Homo sapiens: one gene and its partner. The protein of the gene in region 1 interacts with the protein of each later gene in a pairwise test. Each region holds a gene or a part of one and is shown on either strand. Other genes may lie near its edges.

What was found.
Region 2: the proteins of SLC18A1 (region 1) and APOL2 interact in binary tests that used the Homo sapiens proteins (3 or more experiments, as listed by UniProt).

Annotation. Positions count from the first base shown.
Region 1 is NC_000008.11:20,173,137-20,180,157, reverse strand, and holds part of SLC18A1 (chromaffin granule amine transporter), read left to right. Parts: intron 1-673; coding exon 674-1,037; intron 1,038-1,664; coding exon 1,665-1,723; intron 1,724-5,713; coding exon 5,714-5,797; intron 5,798-7,021.
Region 2 is NC_000022.11:36,236,520-36,244,181, forward strand, and holds the start of APOL2 (apolipoprotein L2), read right to left. Parts: upstream 3,009-7,662; 5' UTR 2,922-3,008; exon of another isoform or gene 2,617-2,921; intron 330-2,616; exon of another isoform or gene 77-329; intron 1-76.

The sequences.
Region 1 (7,021 bases):
TTGCTCCCAGGGAAACACACACACACACACACACACACACACACACACAATTATAATCTTAAATCTTAAACATCGTGGTACATCGTGTTTTCTTTATAAAAGAGAAAAAGAAGTTCAGAAGTGTTAAGTGACTTGCCCAAGGCCTCTCCACTAGCAGGTGCCAGAGTTGGGATTCAAACCCTGTCCAGGGGTCCCAGAGCTGAGGCTCCTCTGACCACCCTGCCCTTCCTCCTCCCATCCCCTCCTGTGGCCAGGTCTGTGTGAGAGCTGGACATGTCTGTGAAATGTCGTGGTAGCTCAGTGTGTGTTGGTTTGGGGGGTTACATGTCAATCTAAGTGAGTAGGAGAGTTAGCCAATGTGGAAACCATGAACAATGAGGACTAACTGTATAAGGTCAGAATTTAGCTACTTTAGCTAATAGGATAACTTGGGCAGGCACAGTCTTTTAGTAGGTTTTAACCATGCCACTCCAGATACCAGCCTTGGGCATAAGGCTGAACCTCATCATAGTCCCCTGATCCTAGTAGTGGTAAGATGACATCTGTCCTTAGCCCCCATCACCTGTCCTCCTTGACTTTCAGTAGAATTGACATCTGTCCTTAGCCCCTTGAGTTTCAGTGGTAAGATGACATCGGTCCTTAGCCCCCATCACCTGTCCTCTTTGACTTTCAGTGCCAATTGTGCCCACCTTCCTATATGACATGGAGTTCAAAGAAGTCAACTCTTCTCTGCACCTCGGCCATGCCGGAAGTTCCCCACATGCCCTCGCCTCTCCTGCCTTTTCCACCATCTTCTCCTTCTTCAACAACAACACCGTGGCTGTTGAAGAAAGCGTACCTAGTGGAATAGCATGGATGAATGACACTGCCAGCACCATCCCACCTCCAGCCACTGAAGCCATCTCAGCTCATAAAAACAACTGCTTGCAAGGCACAGGTTTCTTGGAGGAAGAGATTACCCGGGTCGGGGTTCTGTTTGCTTCAAAGGCTGTGATGCAACTTCTGGTCAACCCATTCGTGGGCCCTCTCACCAACAGGTATCTCACTGGGTGCAGTGCCCCGCAGGGTACACAGGAGTAGGAGGACTAGAAAAGTATAGAAAGGGGGTTGGAAGGGAAAAAGAAGAAATACTCACTTGTATGATTCCTCAGGGGAGTCAGCTATTCGGAAAGCTCGTTACTCAAAGAATAACATGTTACTGATGAAATGTTATGGGATCAGATTTTCTTAGTGATATATTGAGTATTGAGTACCAAGAAGAGAACCATGAACAGCAGTGTGCTGTGATGTTCTATCAGTGACCTGGAGCATGGCTTGAATGGGAAAAGGGTATGAATGGGACAGTCCTGTTGTAATCTAGAGCACTGGCTTCCCAGGAGTTGTATTGACGATTATTCTGATATTTTCAAGAGATATACACTCCACCTAGGCTATCATTTCTGGAAATGAGAATTTTGGCCCTGATCTATGGTCATATCTGCATGTTTGTTTGTTTGCTCATACTCATCCACATGCCCTATTTCATCTCCACACTACATTCAGAGGCATGTTTTACCATACACCCAAATAGCTGCATTTCTGCTCCCACTTACATTTAAAAATGTAGTCCATGTATGTGAGTGCCTGTTGGAATTGTATCTTTTTTTTTTTCAATTCCCTTTTAGGATTGGATATCATATCCCCATGTTTGCTGGCTTTGTTATCATGTTTCTCTCCACAGTTAGTAAGTAATTTGCTTCCTCTTTTCTTCCCTTCACTGATTACCTTTGATTTTATCAAGTGAATGCGGTGTAGATAGCAGGGTAACCTAGAATGTAATTAGGCATCTGACTAAGCAGACTGGAATATTGGTTTAAATGCTCTGCTGTTTTTGGTATGTGGACTAGAACAGTAGTGACAATTCAGTCTAGTTGGAATTGGTCTATTCTGCTATAGAAGAACAGATATTTTATTCACTTCACTTCAGCTGGACATAATGAGAGCTGTTTGAATATGTATGCTACGGGGTGTGTGTGTGTGTGTGTGTGTGTGTGTGTTATATGCATCAGTAATCCCTTGAGCAAGTTTAATACAAACTTTCCATCTATGAGAAGCAATGATATTATTTTGTTATGCCATGGAAAAGGGCAACTCACAAAAAAATGGAAATTGGACAATAACATCTGGAAAATTCCAAAAAGCCTACTGCTTTTCAGTTAAGGGCTTTAAAGGTTAAGCTTAGAAAAGTAAATTTGCTAAAGAAACAAGAAAGAGAAAGACAAATACTCTATCCAGGATCAGCTAAATGTTTCTAATAAAATGGAGATGGGATAAACACAGTACATGAGAAAAGTAAGTCTGGAAATTGATGCTGAGAAGTAAAGGAAGAAGGAATGAAAAGGGTTAGCGTTAGCAGGTTAAGGCAGGGGAAGGCAGCCTGTGGATCCAGCCTTGGTTCCCGATGGCCCTGCTGAACCTCTGCTCTCCAACAACACACCTCCTTCTCCCTCGCGTTTTTCTTTTCTTTTCTTTTCTTTTTAATTATACTTTAAGTTCTAGGGTACACGTGCACAACGTGCAGGTTTGTTACGTATGTATACATGTGCCATGTTGGAGTACTGCACCCATTAACTCATCATTTACATTAGGTATATCTCCTAATGCTATCCCTCCCCTCTCCCCCGACTCCATGACAGGCCCCGGTGTGTGAAGTTCCCCTTCCGGTGTCCATGTGTTCTCTGTTCAATTCCCACCTATGAGTGAGAACATGCCTCTCATTTTTCTTATTACCTTTCTGTTCCTTGTCTACTTTCTGTCTTCCTCTTCCTCAACTTTTCTTCTTTCCCAGCACAGAACTTGATTCCTAGCAACCCAATATTTAACAAGAATTTGTTGCATTCTGGGCTGGAAGGCTGCAAACTGCAAGAACTTGAGATGTGAGGTTGTCTCTGAGAACTACGTCTTGTTTGTGAAATTTTAGTGGACTTGAAGAAAATGAAGAAATTCAAATTAGCACTGTTCATGGAACTTCTAGCAGTTCAGCCTAAGTTAGACAGCAAATTTAAAAATAATAAGATGCCAGGTGCCCTATTTCATCAAATGAGGCTTAAGATTTATTCCAAACAACTTTATGCAGTGCATGTATAATGCCCAGATGGCCATAGTCACATAAAGAATGAAAAGACATGATTCCAGCTATCAGAAGTGTATATGATGGTTGCCTGGGGAGACATGAGACACACACTGAGAAGTAAGACAATGCGGTGTGCTAGTGGATCTGAGACGTTTTAGCATGATATCCTTGCCTGATTCTCTGCCAAGAATTCATGTGTTAAAAGCTTTACTTTTAAAGTAAACTGTATATGTTAAGTAATTATTGTTTAACTTATACCAAACTATATATGTTAAATAATTATTATTTCCATAGGATAGCTGTGTTGCTATATGGAGTTGGCCTAATTCTAACCAAAAGAAAATACATTTGATGTTTAGGGTATCCTTGTCCAATGTTCTAAAAAATACTTAAAAGAGATTGTTGATGCCCGTTACTACCCTTAAACCCTCCACCCCCCAACTAGGAGCCATGCCTAATGTAATCAAGAGTGAAATGGTGGCCCATGTAAAGGGTCCAAAGTGAAAAAAATAATTGCTTTGGTATTCCTAAATAGAATGACCAACTCTCCTGGTTTGCCTAGAATTGAGGGGTGTCTTAGTCCATTTAGCATTGCTATAAAGGAGTACCTGAGGCTGGGTCATTTATATTAGAAAGAGGTTTGTTGGCTCATGGTTCTGCAGGCTCTACAAGAAGCATGACACCAGCATCTGCTTCTGGTGCGGGCCTCAGGGAGCTTCCACTCATGGTGGAAGGTGAAGGGGAGCTGGCTGTGCAGAGATGAGAGAGGAAGAAAGAGAGAGGAGAGGGAGGTGCCAGCCTTTTTTTAACCAGCAGCTCTTGAGAGAACTGTAGAGTGAGAACTCACTCACCACCAAAGGAAGACATTAAAGTATTCATGAGGGATCCTTCCCCATAACCCAAACACCTTCCACTGGGCCCCATCTCCAACACCGGGGATCAAATTTCAACATGAGATTTGGTGGGGACAAACAACCCATGTCCACACTGTAGTGAGGGGCTTCCCAGGATGTAAGACTTCCTGTTTTTGTGGGGTATTTTGAGTTTCAGTTTTAAAAACAAGGAAGTTCTGGGCAGACCAAGATGAGTGGGTCACTCTATTCTCAAAGGACATTGGGAGAGTAGACAGAAAAGACTGGAAATAACAAAGTCTGAGAAAAGATGCTGGTGGCCAGGAAAGAAGAGACCAAGAATGTGCATCTTTGGGAGACAAGGAGAAGTTCGGTGTGATCATGTCTGCCGGGAAGTAATGGGAGAAGATTAAAAACACAACCAAAGACATCTGTAATGAATGGGCAAAGGGATTACAATTCTTCTGATTCAGACACTTCGAGGAGATTATTCTTACCCTAGGAGACATTTTTCTGGAATTGGAGGTGAGACATGTCTGGACTTAACTACCCTGACCACCAGCACCCTCTGATTTAGTTTTGTGTTGCGGGAAGTCAGGGACCCTGAATGGAAGGACCTGCTGAAGCCATGACAGAAGAACATAAATCATGAAGATTTCATGGACATTTATTAGTTCCCCAAATTAATACTTTTATAATTTCTCACACTTGTCTTTACTGCAATCTCTGAACATAAAATTGTGAAGATTTCATGGACATTTATCACTTCCCCAATTATCAATACTCTTATAATTTCCTATGCCTGTCTTTACTTTAATCTCTTAATCCCATGGTCTTCGTAAACTGAGGATGTATGTCGACTCAGGACCCTGTGAGGATTGCGTTAACTGCACAAATTGTTCATAAAGCGTGTGTGTTTGAACAATATGAGATCTCAGAACCTTGAAAAAAGAATAGGATAATGGAGATGTTCAGGGAGCAAGGGGAGATAACCATTAGGTCTGACTGTCTGGGAGCCTGGCAGGACAGAGCCATATTTCTCTTATTGTTTTGGATGACATATTCCTGTTGGATCTCAGTTTCCTGGGTGTCCATCTTCAACACACTGCCTCTCTTCACGGACAATAACTAGATGTTATTTTTATTTTGCATTTGCTACAGAGTCTAGCAGAGCTGCGCATTCAGTATAATTTAATACCTGCTGATTTTGTCTGGTTAAAAGATCGTTCAATATAAGATATAAAAAAGGATCTGATTGTATCACAAGATATTATTTTCTACCCAATTCCTATAATCCTCGAAGCACCTACTTACTGTCACTGTACTCCAGATGATCCTGTGGGACCCAGCAATGGTAAAGACCAGATCTGGATTTTGCACATGGACGATCCAGGAGTATGATCTAAGAACCAGTTTCCAGCCTAGGACACTGAGCTTCATGGACATCCCTCATTTCAGTGGACAGAATGTTGGGTTCTTGGCAAGAGATGTACAGACTCAGCCTTCCATCTGCTGTGTGGTGACTCGGTTTATACTTCTGTGGTTTCTCAGTTTTCTTGCCATTTAAATAGCAAAACTGAGGAGTGGGAGATTGAAAAGACAACTCAAAAAACAGGGAACAGTCATCATGCTTTATTAAAAACATATGCATCAAGACTCATATCTGCAGTATCACGGGCATGTTCTCTGGCGGCTGGGGAAGCAAAGGCAATTTGCTAACTGCAGTTATCTTGCTATTCTCTCTGCCCAGTGTTTGCTTTTTCTGGGACCTATACTCTACTCTTTGTGGCCCGAACCCTTCAAGGCATTGGATCTTCATTTTCATCTGTTGCAGGTAACACTGGCAACTCATCATGCACACACACATGCAGGCATGCACACACACACATCTCTTACTACCTCAGATCCTATATTTACATGGAGAAATTAAGGAAAATGTCACCTGGATAGGTAGAAATTGTGATTCAGAAATAAGGGAATTGGGCTGGGCACAGTGGCTCACACCTGTAACCCCTGCACTTTGGGAAGCCAAGGCAGGAGGATAGCTTGATTCTAGGAGTCTGAGACCAACCCGGGCAGCCTGGGCAACATAGTGAGAGCCCTATTTCTATTAAAAAAAAGAGAGAATAAGTTAGCCAGGCATGGTGGTGTGCACCTGTGGTCCCAGCTACTTGGGAGGCTAAAGTGGGAGGATGGCTTGAGCTTGGGTGGTCAAGGCTGCAGTGAGCCATGATTGTGCCTCTGCACTTCAGCCTGGGTGACAGAGCTAGACCCTAACTCAAAAAAAAAAAAAAAAAAAGAAAGGAATTACAGAGTTTCTAACAGGGTCCATAGATCTCTGAGCCTGACATAACTTCCTCTGCTAATATTCAGATGCAGCTAGCTCAGGTCAGAGCAAGCCTCCAGTGAAGCTATGAAGAAGGGCAGGCTTTCATTTAGTGCCACTCTATGGTCCTTTTTCTGTCCCCCTCTTAGTACTTTATAGGAATAATCATGTTAGTACTACTGGTAACACCAGCACAGTTTTCAAAGTACTGGTGAATATAATATCTAATGCAATCTTATGAAGTTGGCATTTTATGCCATTTTACCCATAGCTATGAAGGCCAGAGGGTCCAGCTGCCGTACAGCACTAGCCCACACTTTCTTCCAGGTCTGCAGTGCTTTCCTGCTCTTCCCTGGGCACCCCTGTTAAATAGAATGGTCTCTGTGTGCCTAGATTTTCCTTTCCCTGATCTGCTCTGTAACCCCTCATTTTGGGAAATGTGCTAGGAAATGATAAAATGTTATGAAACATGGTATAATCAGACAATGGATTTTCTGTGTTATCCTTCCAGAGGGCTTGCACTATCAACAATATTCTGAACAGGAGTGGACAATGTGGGGGCTTGGGGGACTAGGGAGGGTAGTACTTGAAAAATACTACGGGTTAAGTTTTGTAAAACCCCTCAAACTGAAACTCTAGCTAAGATTGTCACTGAAGAGATAACAGGGTGGGACCAAGGGCTCTGAGAGGCGGATAGAAGCCCCCCAGGGGGCCAGCTGCATCTGTAACTCT
Region 2 (7,662 bases), on another chromosome or scaffold:
AAGTAATAATGATAATACCGATTCAGGCCCATCCCAGTTAGGGGCGGCTCCAAAATCACCATTGTTCTTTTCTCACCTTGTGTCTCTGCGCACTCCCCGGCACACCCACTTCCAGCAGCTGGTCTTTGTTTGCAGACTTTATTTTAACAGCTCAGTGGTTCCCGGGCATCCTCCAGCTCTTATACAAAAGCCCCCTCCTCAAAAGCCACTCGCCTCCCTCTTTCCACTTCCCACCTCTGTTTCAGGGTCGAGGCATCCAGATATCTGTCTTCTGGGGCCCCTACGCAGCAAGACTAAAAGGGGGACCCAGTCCTGGGCAGCAGTTCACCAGGGGAGTATGCAGAGGGGCATCTGGACACTTCTTGCTGTAAGGGACGGGGTGACGGGAGGGGGTCTTCCCTTCCCCTTCTTCCTGCTTTGTTCACTCTGTGACACCCTAGGCCAGGGGAGCTGTCTCAACGCCATCTCATGAGCCATGAGAACCAGGAGGACCAGGAGGGAGAAGAGGAGCAGGAGGGCAGACAGAGCTGGGGCCTCGGACCTGCCCAATACTTGTGAGGAGCTGCATCCAGGATCCCATCCTCCTGGGTCATTGTTGGCCTGGCTCCCACCTTTGTCTGGAGCCTCTGCTGGGGGTTGAGGCTGGATACTGCCCCTCAGGCTTGACTAGGACACAGTGTGTACTCCATGGGTGAGCCTGCAGGCTGGTCAATTCCGGTGTCCAACTGAGCGACCTGGAAGAGGAGCCCTCCCTCCCACCTCAGCTCTGAGCCAAGCTCTCCAGATGCAGAGGACAGGGACTCTCAGCAAAGCATCTCCCTCCAAGTGGTTGTGGGGCATCCTCCTTGGGCAGGGAAAGAGGAGTCGAAATGATTTCCTGAGAAATCGTCATTTTCATTTTATTTTTGAGAAACTGTCTTGCTCTGTCACCCAGTCTGGAGTGCTTTGGGGCTATCACAGCTTGCTGTAGCCTAGAGCCCCTGGGCTCAAGTGATCCTTCTGCCTCAGCCTTCCAGGTAGCTGGGACTACAGGCACACGGCACCATGCAGGACTAATTTGTTAATTTTTCATTTCAGAGAGACAGCATCTCCTGTGTTGCCCAAGCTGTCTTGAGCTCCTAGCATCATGTGATTCTCCCGCCTCTGCCTCCCACAGCACTGAATTACAGGCCTCAGCCGTGGCACTGCACCCTTCTGAGGAATCTTCAGTGAAAAGCCACGGTCAAGTTCAAACCCCATAGCAGGGCACACAGGCCCTCTGATGCTCTGGACCCCACCTTCCTCACCGCTCCCTGCCACCACAGTCACCTTAGGTCCAGGCACCCACTGACGCCCTGCTTCGGTGCCTCCTGGAGCCCATCTACTCCTCCCACTCCCATCCCCAGCCTCAGGCCTTCACTCAGCTGCTCCCTCGCCCTGGAATGTCCCCCCCACTGTCCCCACCATGTGCAAGTCACCTGTCCTCAGAGACCCACCCAAAGCTGCCTGGTCCATGCGGCGGCCCCCAACCCTCCCCAGGCTCCCTGAGCACTCTGCTTTCCAGAGGGAGCTCTACCTGTATGTGGCTCTTTGGGCCTCTGTCTCCCCTTTAGACTCTGAACATTCAATGGGGACACTGTTGTGTTCCCAGCTGCACCCCCTACGACTGACCTGGATGCCCTCCGCCCTCCCTGGCACAGCCTGGCTGAAATCCCAGGTGCAGGAGGCATTACTTGAACTAAAAGCAACCAGCCTCTGGATGACATGGCCCAGCTTCAGTTTCACTTTCAGTTGAGAAATTGAATTTAATTTTTCTTTCTATCTTGATGGGCATCTCTTTTTGGTGAAGAACAAATAAGACCATGACTCATATTTCACAGAAATTACCCCCCTGATTTCATGGACTTTTGGCAGCTCTATCAAGTTTTTTAGAGGGGAAAAATCTTAGGCTGGGAGGGGAGGTGACTTGCCCAGAGTCACACAGCTCTTGGAGGGCAGAGGGGAGGCCAACATCTGCCCTTGTGACTCTGATATTGAAGCAAAAATGGGTGATTTTAATAATCCAACAGTGTCCAGGTTTGATTCTGCTTCTACAAACACAGAGACCTAAGCTCTCACTCCTGTAGTTATACTCACAATTCCACAGTGTGGCTTTTGAATCTCATGATTGCAAAGCTGGCATCATGCCACAGGTACCATTCTGCAATGCGACCTTCTCACTCCCCTGTCTCAGCCATGTTTCCCATTAGGGACACAGCACAGCCTGTTTCTTCTCTATCAGCTCAGAGGTCTGAACAGAGGGACAGAGGTGAGGGCCAGAGACGTGAAGTCCTATGATCTGCCTGCTCAGCCTCCTGACACGGGACCCTGGCAAGTCATTCCCCTCCCAGGGCCTCAGTTTCCCCACAGGGCCTGGCACAAGTAGGTGCTCAGACTCAGGGTGAGTGAGACAACCTCTGAGTTCCTTGTGTCTCAAAAGAAATCTGTTGTTCCCATTGGGCTTCAGCAGCAGCACCCTGGGGCCAGCCTGGGTGTGGCCCGGCCACAAGGACATGCCGGGCTCCAGGTCACCTCCCCTCCTCCACCTTCTTTGATTCCTTCAAATTTCCCAAAGAGATGGGCACCCCCAACACCTACCTTTCTTCTGGGGTCAGCTGGCCGTGTCTGAGGGTGTCAGAACCAGAGCTGAGCCCGGGGAGCTTTGTGAACCCATCTAAGCTGTTTTCCCCACCTCTCTCTACAGTTTACCCGCCCAGCAGGAGGGAGGGAGCAATCAGACTCAAGCCTGGGTGCAAATCCCGGCTCTGCCACTGCTTTCCTGTCTGATCTGAACCAGCTACCTAACCTCTCTGAGCTTATCTACAAAAGCTGAATGATCCTTCCCTTATAGAGCTATTGCAAGAATAAGGACATGGGGGTAGATCACACTATCCCCAACTTACCAAGGGATCTTCCTCTGACAGAGACTGAGCAAGATCCAACTGTTCTGAGCTGTGTGGATCCCACGTCCAGCTGTGCATCTGTGTAATAACCAGACACGTCCTCCGGCCTCCCAGATATACCCTGGAATTCGAAAGGGAAAGTGAAAGTCACAACTTCCCAGCAGCTCATGACCAAGCACAGTAAACACGCTGCTCCCCAGCACCACCTGCAGTCCAGGCCCAGCCTCCTTGCTGCTGCACTTAGAGGAGCAGCCGCAGACCAGACATCCGGGTCCCTCTCATCCAACCCACCTGCCTCACATCCTCAGGATTCAAGGTCTGCTGTGTCAGCTGCCCATGTCTCAGGCAGTCAGAACCAGAGTTGAGCCTGGGGAGTTTTTTGAACCCATCTGAGCCGCTTGCCCCCCAACCCCCGCCCCGATCTCTGCAGTTTAAGGGCACAGCAGGTGGGGGAGAGAAGTCAGACTCAAGCCTCAGTGCAATTCCAGGCTCTGCCCCTGTTTTACTGTCTGATCTGAACTAGTTACCTAACCTTTCTGAGCTCAAGAAAGACCTGCCACTGACTGACCGTGGGGCTCTCCAGATTACTCCCCGTCCTTCCGTTCCCCCACATTCCTCAGATGCCTGCCTTACTCCCACACATGCCATCAGCATCAGCACAGTCCCCCACACATGCTGGGTGGATGCTTATTGCATATTTATTGTAATGCTTCTGAGGTTATGTTTTCTGTTATGTTTTTGATATAGAGTCTTGCTCTGTAGCCCAGGCTGGAGAGCAGTGGCACAATCATAGCTACTTCAAGTGGCACAATCAAGCCATCCTCCCATCTCAGCTTCCGAGTAGCTGGGATTACAGGTGCCTGCCACTACACCCAGCTAATTTTTTGTAATTTTAGTAGAGATGGGGTTTCACCATCTTGGCCAGGCTGGTCTTGAACTCCTGACCTCAAGTGATCCACCTGCCTTGGCCTCCCAAAGTGCTGGGATTACAGGTGTGAGCCACGGCGCCCAGCCCATTGTATCCTTCTTGTGACTTTGTGTCTTCATAGCTTAGCTCCTACTAATAAATGAGAACATACAATATTTGGTTTTCCATTCCTGAGTTACTTCACTCAGAATAATGGTGTCCAACTTCATCCAGATTGTTACGGATGCCATTATTCCCTTCCTTTTTACAGCTGAGTAATATTCCATGGCATATACATATATAGGGGTGTGTGTGTGTGTGTGTGTGTGTGTATATACACACACATTTTCTTCATCCACTTGTTGGCTGATGAGCATTTAGGTTGGTTCCATATTTTTTCGGTTGCAAATTATGCAGCTATAAACATGCATGTGCGAGTATCTTTTTTATATAATAACTTTTCTCCTCTGGGTAGATACCCGGTAGTGGGATTACTGGATCAAATGGTATTCTACTTTTAGTTTTTTAAGGAGTTGCCATACTGTTTTCCATAGTGGTTGTACTAGTTTACATTCCCACCACCAGTGTAAAAGTTTTCCCTTGTCACCATATTCACACCATTTTAGCTAGGCTGGTCTTGAACTCCTGACCTCAAGTGATCCACCTGCTTTGGCCTCCCAAAGTGCTGGGATTACAGGTGTGAGCCACTGCACCCTTCTATTCTTCTTTGATTTTTAAATTATGGCCATTCTTGCAGGAGTAAGGTGGCAACTTATTGCAGTTTTAATTTGCATTTCTCTGATAATTAGTGACGTTGAGCACATTTTCATATTTTTTTGGCCATTTCATTTTGTATATCTTCTTTTGAGAATTGTCTATTCATGTCCTTTGCCCACTTTTTGATGGGATTATTTTTTTTTTCTTGCTGATTTGTTTGAGTTCCTTGTAGAAACTGGATATTAGTCCTTTGTCAAATGCACAGTTTGCAAATATTTTCTCCCACTTTGAGGGTTGTCTGTTTTCTCTGCTGATTATTTATTTTGCTGTGCAGAAGCTTTTTACTTTAATTAGGTCCCATCTCTTTATTTTTGTTTTCGTTGCATTTATTTTTGGGTTCTTGGTCCTGAATTCTTTGCCTAAGCCAATGTCTGGAGGAGTTTTTCCGATGTTATCTTCTAGAATTTTTATGGTTTCAGGTTTTAGATTTAAGTCTTTGATCCATCTTGAGTTGATTTTTGTATGAGGATACTGTTTCATTCTTCTACATGTGGCTTGCCAATTATCCTGGCACCATTTGTTGAATAGGGTGTCCTTTCCGCACTATACGTTTTTCTTTGCTTTGTCAAAGACTAGTTAGCTGAAAGTATTTGGCTTTATTTCTGGGTTCTCTATTCTGTTCCCTTGATCTATGTGCCTATTTTTATACCGGTACCATTCTGCCATTATGTACCTTTTTTTTTTTTTTTTTTTTTTTTTTTTGAGATGGAGTCTCTCTCTGTCACCCAAGCTGGAGTGCAGTGGTGCGATCTTGGCTCGCTGCAAGCTCCACCTCCTGGGTTCATGCTATTCTCCTGCCTCAGCCTCCCGAGTAGCTGGGACTACAGGCGCCCACCACCACACCTGGCTAATTTTTTTTTTTTTTTTTTTTTGTATTTTAGTAGAGATGGGGTTTCACTGTGTTAGCCAGGATGGTCTCGATCTCCTGACCTCGTGATCTGCCTGCCTTAGCCTCCCAAGGTGCTGGGATTACAGATGTGAGCCACTGCACCCAGCCCTTGTACCTTTTAAGTGAACCATTTAGCCCATTTTCATTCAATGTTAGTATTGAGATATAAAGTGCTGTTCTATTCATCAGGCAAGTTGTTGCCTAAATACCTTATTTTTTTCATTGTGTTATTGTTTTATAGGCCCTAAGGCTTATAAAACAATATGCTGTAAGGAGGTTCTATTTTGGTGTATTTCGAGGTTTTGTTTCAAGACTTAGAACTCCGTTTAGCATTTCTTGTAGTACTGGCTTGGTAGTGGCGAATTCTTTCAGCATTTGTTTGTCTGAAAAAGACTTTATCTCTCCTTCATTTATGAAGCTTGGTTTTGCTGGATACAAAATTCTTGACTAACAATTATTTTGTTTAAGGAGGCTAACAACAGGACTCCAGTCCCTTCTGGCTTGTATGGTTTCTGCTGATAAATTAGCTGTTAATCTCATAGATTTTCCTTTACAGGTTACCTTATGCTTTTGTCTCACAGCTCTTAAGATTATTTCCTTCTTCTTGACTTTAGATACCCTGATGACATGTGCCTAGGTGAGGATCATTTTGTGATGAATTTCCCAGATGTTCTTTGAACTTCTTGTATCTGGATATCTAGATCTCTAGCAAGGCCAAGGAAGTTTTCCTCAATTATTCCCTCAAATAAGTTTTCCAAACTTTTAGATTTCTCTTCATCCTCAGCAACACCAATTATTCTTAAATTTGGCCATTTAACATAATCTCAAATTTCTTGGAGGCTTTGCTCATTTTTTAAAATTCTTTTTTCTTTGTCTTTGTCTGATTGGGTTAATTTGAAAGCTGTGTCTTCAAGCTCTGAAGTTCTTTCTTCTACTTGTTCTAGTCTATTGTTGAAACTTTCCAGTGCCTTTTGTATTTCTTTCAGTGTGTCTTTCATTTCCAGAAGCTGTGATTGTTTTTTCTTTGTGATATCTATTTCTCTGGAGAATTTTCATCCATATTCTGTATTTTTTAAAATTTCTTTAAGTTGGTTTTCACCTTCCTCTGCTATCTCCTTGAATAGCTTAATAATCAACCTTCTAAATTCTTTATATGGCAATTCAGAGATTTTTTGTTGGCTTGTATCTATTGCTGGGGAGCTAGCAATAGCTTTGGGGGGTGTTATAGAAATATGTTTTGTCATATTACCAGAATTACTTTTCCGGTTCCTTCTCATTTGGGTAGACTATTTCAGTGGAAAGATCTGAAACTCAACTCCTTCTGTTCAGGTTCTTTTGTCCCACGGGTTATTCCTTGATGTGGTACTCTCCTTCTCCTAGGAATAGGGCTTCCTGAGAGCCAGACTGCAGTGATTGTTATTGCTCTTCTGGGTATAGCCACCCACTGGGGCTATACCAGCCTTTGGGTTGGTGCTGGGGAATGTCTGCAAAGAGTCCTGTGATGTGATCATCTTCTGGTCTCCTAGCCATGGATACCAGCACCTACTCTGGTGTAGGTGACAGGCGAGTGAAGTAGACTCCGTGAGAGTCATTGGTTGTAGTTCTCTTTAGTGTGCTGTTTTCTCCAATGCTGGTTATGCTAGCAGTGAAGCTGTCATGTGGAGAGACTGAGGACCTCTGGTCAGTCAGGATGTTGCGGGCAGTGGTATTAGCTCTTGTCTTCTCCTTCCTGGGAATAGGGTTATTCTGTCATGAGTTGCTGTAATGGCCTGAGTTGGTTGGTCTCCAGCCAGGAAGTGGCACTTTCAAGAGAGCACCAGCTGCGGTAGTAGAAGGGAGATACAAGCTTGCCCTAGGTTGACCAGGGTAAGTATTCTAGTTTCTCAGGTGATTGGCAGGGCCATAAAGCTCCCACGAGTTTATGTCTTTTGTGTTCAGCTACCAGGATAAGTAGAGAAATACCATCAGGTGGAGGGCAGGGTTAGCTGGGTCTGAGCTCAGACTTTCCTTAAGCAGGGCTTGCTGCGGCCACTGTGAGGGATGCAGATTGTCCTAAGGCCAATGGGGTTTGTTACAGAGGGGATTATGGCTGCCTCTGCTGTGCCATATAGTTCGCCAGGGAAGTGGGGGATAGCTGGCAGCGAGAGGCCTCACCCAGATCACATGCA